Linked DNA regions of Homo sapiens: region 2 is linked to region 1. A link means that fine-mapping ties the variant in region 1 to the expression of a gene that starts in the linked region. Tissue or cell type: cerebellum. Region 1 holds a variant in brackets; the other region holds the start of a gene. All regions are shown on one strand. Distances are from middle to middle.

Region 1 (2,682 bases):
TTGGAAGGACTCTGTCCAGGGGAGAGCAGAAGCTAGATGGTAGGGTTGTGGCATTTGCTGGCTTTCACTGTTCTTATGGAAACAGTTGGACCATCCCTAGCTCCTTCCTACCCCACACCTCCATCTTCTGTTCTAGCTTGCTAATGAAGAGACAATAAAGAACATCACTCACTGGACTCTGTTTAACTATTACAACTCTTCTGGTTGGAACGAGAGTGTCCCCCGACCACCCCTGCACCCTGCAGATGTGCCCCGGGGTTCTTGCTGGGAGACAGCTGTGGGCATTGTGAGTAGTTACACTCTCTAAAAAGGTGACCCCTGTTCTCAGTTCTTTGTTATTCCCTCCTTGATGTTTCCATTTGAGGAATAACCCTGAAAACTTACCAGCTGTTCATCCAGCAAACATTTCATAATCATCTAGGAGGAAATAAAATGACCAAAGCAGATCCTGTGACCCCTGGGAACTCCAAATCTCTTTGGTGTCTCAAAGGTTGTGATTGGTGTCTGGTAGATATTTTCAATTTTTCCAAAAACATAGTAAATTATGTCTATTCTACAAATGCAGAGAAAGCTTTGTCCTTCAGTTTTTGGTCCTTCTTCTATGTGCCTCTGTGCAAAACCTGTTTTATTTTCTCTATATATCAAAAAAAAGAAAAAGAAAAAGAAAAATCTGACTAGCAGAAGATGAAAAAAGCTAGGCATTGTCTCCAGTGACTGACGGTCACATTTGGTCTTAGTGGGGGCAGCTGGCACTTCAGAATAAGTGGGGAAGCAAGGCCTTCGGGTCCTAGTGATGATGACTACGATGCATTGGGCATAGTCAATTTAACAGGCAATTTGCATTTGCATACATAATTACTAAGTTTCACAATAGCCTTTTGAGATTGATATCAATATCAACTTCAAGAGGTTCAGAGATTATTCCAAAGCCATACAATTGGTAATGTGGAGCTGGGACCTAAATTAAGCATTTTCCAGAGCCAGGAGTCGCCTCTCTTCACACACAAAGGATCAGAGGGTCACAGAGACAAAGTCAGGTGGGTGGGGGAGAGTTTATTAGACTCTCAACAAACTCTCAGGGAGGGTGGGAGAAGTGGGCAAGGTCTCCAACCACCCCCTCTTCCTGTGTTCCTCTGCAGGAATTCATGAGGCTGACGGTGTCTGACATGCTGGTAACGTACATCACCATCCTGCTGGGGGACTTCCTACGGGCTTGTTTTGTGCGGTTCATGAACTACTGCTGGTGCTGGGACTTGGAGGCTGGATTTGTAGGTCACCACTTCATGGACATTCCGCACAAAGGAATTTCAACTATCTTCTTTGATACTTATAGCCAGATGCATTCTTGGGCATTTCATTTCTTTGGAAGCTTAATGACGGTCTCTGCTCTGTAGAGTAGTAAAGTGTTTAATTTGTATTTCCTTTAAGGGTCCTATTTGCCTTCATAAGGGAAACTGCTTTTTCCCAGTGTAATGAACAATGTGACCTTCTATTCTAGGAAATGGAGGCATTTGGCCTAGGGGAAAGTGGACCACACACTCCAGTACTGAGCC[A/G]ATGGTTGATAGGGAATTGCATCTGAGCAGCCTCAACTCTCATTATGGGGGCTGAAATCTGACAGTGGAGGCGAATATTTCAGGAAGTCCTGGAACACACCAAGAACACAATAACCATTGGTCCTGTCTTCTGGATGATGCTTTGAGAAACCTCCTTTGACTTGTATTCCCTTATAGCCCTCTTCCCCACCTACCTGGTAAATGTGTGTCATTTCCTCTCTGTAGTGTCCTTCTATGCTCTGGCAGAATCTCTGGCTCAGGCACCTGTGCTGTACATGTCTCTTCCACAACACCTCACTGGCCCAGCCTGCAGTCACTGGTGTGCATGTAAGGTACCTACCTCTTACCTGAGCTCCTGGTGAAAGGCTCCGTAGGATGTTGACCTATGTATCCCTCATCCTGGCCTGGCCCAGGTAAGGGCCCCAGTACAGGTTTCTGTCACATTTTTTTTCGTTCAGTCACCAGTCTCAGTTTTAAACAAGTCTGCTGAGCTCCTCGGCAGCCAGGAAAGCTTCATAATCTTGTCTGAGAACGAAGATGAAAGAACTTTGTGCTCAAAGAGGATGACATCTTTGATAGAAAGACACAATATTACTAAGAGGTCATTGTTCTTAAATTTGTTTGTAAGATCACCACGATTTCCAAATAATACTAAAGTTCATTTGAAAAATAAGCATGTGAGAATATCCAGAAAAAATATTTAAAAAGAAGAATAAGGCCAGGTATGGTGGCTCACACCTGTAATCCTAGCACTTTGGGAGGCCAAATTAGGAGAATTGCTTGAGTCCAGGAGTTCAAGATCAGCCTGGGCAATTTAGCAAGACCCCATCTCTACAAAAAATAAAAAATTAGCTGGGTGTGCTGGTGCATGCCTGTAATCCCAGCTACTCAGGAGGCTAAGGCAGGAGGATCCCTTGATCCCTTGATCACACCACTGCATTCCTGCCTAGGCGACATAGTGAGGCCCTGTCTCAAAAAGTATATAAAGAAAAAATAAAAAGATGAATAAAAGGAACTAGACTTACCATAATACTAAAACATATGATAAAGCTATAATAACTAAAACTGGTACTAGAAAATAGACCAACATGTCAATGGAACAGAATAGAAAGTCCAGAAATAGATACTA
Region 2 (2,682 bases), 77 kb before region 1:
ATATATGCTTCCTAATTAAATAACAAGATTTCATGGCAGGTCTCTAACTATCATAATTTTGAAGTTGTGATAACATGTAAGATATTTTGAGACATCCCCAGTGGTTTAATTGGGAAAAAAAATAACTGTGACTTTTGCTGAGACAAAAATCACATCTTTGCTTACATTCATGATTGAGGGAAATGCTAAATCGCAGTTAAGGCTAGGAAAAGTGAAAGTGTAGTATTTTCTCCATCACTATTCACAAACCCACAGAATTCCATCCACAGCTCTGGGGGTTCCAGGGACTCCAGATTAAGAACTCCACACTCTGAGACCTTATGACTGCCTTCCAGAGGGTCCCTCTGACACTTTAGTGATGGTTTTCAAAGCAGCCAAATCTGTGCCTCCCTGAAGCCAGGGAGGAAAAGCTGCTGAGGGAGGGGGCGGGGGCTGAGCGGGAACATTCATCTGTGTGGGCTCAGGACGCCTGCAGCAGGATCCACAGTGCAGGCTCCCAGGGCCTGGCACAGACTGACTGATTCCAACGCCCAGTGCCACTCCTGGGAGTATGCATTTTATTTTTAAAAATTTATTATTATTATTTTTCTTTTTGTGGAGATGGGGTCTCACTACGTTGCACAGGCTGGTCTTGAGCTCTTGGGCTCAAGCAATCCTCCTGCCTCTGCCTTCCTAAGTGCTGAGATTACAGGTGTGAACCACCACATGCCAGAATCTGCATTTTAAACAGAAGCCCAAGTAATAACTTAAACAAACATTCTAGAATTTCCCTGGTGCTTTGTCCCAATCAGGGACTCAAGATAGTGGGAGAGGGCCTGGGATGCTCCTCACACCTCCTCTGGCTAGAGTGCCAGCGGCATCATTGCCAGGAGATAAGCCTGCAGCTCCTGGCCCCTCCAGGGCCCCTCATGTATAACTGATGCCTGAAACATGAGGCCATGCTGCCTCTTTGCAGGGAAACCTGAGAAGAGGAGTGTGTGGCCGGATTGATGGGCCGGGAACTCGTCGCCTTCCTTCACCCGTCTCTCTCCCCCAAACTTCACCCACCTCCACATTCAATCTCAAACCAAGAAGCCCCGCCTGCTGTCAGGTCTAGGAAGGGAGGCCAGCCACCATGAGGGCAGGAAAGCAGCCCAGGCTGAAGGCGTGCATACAGGAGCACGCTGCGTGAGCCTGTGCAGGACCCCAGCAGTGCTGCTGACCATGAGCCACCAGGTAAAGGGCCTGAAAGAGGAAGGTGAGTCCACGTCCTGATCCTGCGGGGCCCGCCCACAGGGTTCCTGGGCAGCAGCAGGGGATGGGGGAAGCACATATGGTGTTCAGAGGCATAGGGAGGAGCTGGGTTTGAGTCCAGGGCCTGTCCCCTGTGCGCTGAGCGACCTCGGCTGGTTATTCAACCTCTCTGATCCTCACGCATGAGATGGGGGTAGTCATCACCTCCTTGCAGGGCTACTGGAAGGATTCAAGACAACCTGTGCACAGCACCTGTGTTCAGGCCAGCACTGGAGACTGTCACGGCCGATGCATGCTCCTCAGAGCCTGCTGGGGCGTCTCAGCCACCTATTGTCTCGGTTAGGGTTGCCTGTTCCGAGCAAGCCCCTCAGCAGATTTCTATCTGTCTCTGTCTCTGTGCAGGGCAGGGGGTGGGGGATGTTCTGACCTCATGACTGACAGTATCAGACAAATGTGACAGGCAGGGGACTCTATAATTTGCTGAGTAAAATCATTGGAGCTGGGTCCCAGTTTGAGGCAGCCACAAATCAGCTGAGGGGTCCCACAGTGACCGGGGGTCTGCAGGGAGGGGGACTCACCAGAGGCCAGCCATTTGTCAGCAATCCTGTCTCTTACAGCACGAGGCGGAGTGAAAGGGCGGGTGAAGAGCGGCTCTCCACACACAGGTGAGATGGGGTGGTGGGGTCTCTGGGGAGCCTGCAGTGCCTGGGTGCCCTCTGCTTAGCCCAACAGTCCAGCCACCCATCCAACATTCTCCTTCATCTCCTTCCCTCTCATTCAACACCCTGCATGGAGCCTTCCTGGGAGGCAAGGTGTTTAACATGGGAGGGGGCAGAGTACCACTCAGAGAAGGTGCTGCTCAGCCCTCGGTGTCAGGGGAGACTCCCAGGGTTAGTGACACTCTGAGCTGAGCCTTGGGAAGCAGTGAACATTCACCAGACAGAGGGCAGGGAAGCTCGGTGCAGGCTTCTGGCGGGTGGTGTGGCCAGATTCACATCCAGGCCCCCGGACTCTAGGAGGAACACTCTTAACCTCCAAAAAGTAGTAGGCATAATGGGTGCTCCATCACCTTCCCACTGGGAATGTGACCACAGCTCTCCCGTGAGCCGGTGAGGGAGCCAACTTGCTCCAGGAGAAGTGGGAGAGCCCAAGGAAGCCATAGGCGGGAGAGAAAACCCTTGGTTGAGACTGAGGGTTCAGGGGAGAGGGGCAGAAGCCACACTCACAGGCTGGGCATCTTCATGTCACAAAATATTATGGATGCGATGCTGTTTTCTCCCCCTTCACGTCCCAGGCAGGGCTGGGTCCTGCGCCCCACACTAGTAGGCAAGAAACCAGAATCTTGGGGAGTGATGGGGTTCTGGGGGGTTGGAAGAGATCTCCTTCCTCCCCCATTCTGGGAGGGAGGGCCCTTTCCACTCCCTCCTGTGGGAGGGCCCTGTCCTGGCC

Alleles and levels. Alleles are on the strand shown, and positions count from the first base shown. SD is a standard deviation of normalised expression in the study named.
For the expression in cerebellum of the gene that starts at base 1,155 in region 2, G is the high allele of the variant in region 1 and A is the other (moderate effect, 0.63 SD a copy in GTEx).

Evidence for each region. PIP is the estimated chance that this variant, and not a neighbour inherited with it, causes the effect.
Region 2: it holds the start of TMC2, and the variant in region 1 is fine-mapped to the expression of TMC2 in cerebellum (GTEx, PIP 0.98).

The regions. Positions count from the first base shown.
Region 1 is chr20:2,612,055-2,614,736 of GRCh38, forward strand. It overlaps TMC2 (transmembrane channel like 2), which reads left to right. Exons shown (of 20, transcript NM_080751.3): 13 at 137-286; 14 at 1,140-1,268. It overlaps LOC105372505 (a long non-coding RNA gene), which reads right to left. Exons shown (of 5, transcript XR_007067502.1): 5 at 1,992-2,078. Among named protein-coding and RNA genes, the nearest start is that of NOP56, 39 kb to the right of the region's middle. The variant A/G (reference allele first, on the strand shown) is at 1,554.
Region 2 is chr20:2,535,419-2,538,100 of GRCh38, forward strand. It overlaps TMC2 (transmembrane channel like 2), which reads left to right and starts at 1,155. Exons shown (of 20, transcript NM_080751.3): 1 at 1,155-1,237; 2 at 1,851-1,898. The coding sequence starts at 1,204. All of the region lies in intron 2 of LOC105372504 (a long non-coding RNA gene), which reads right to left.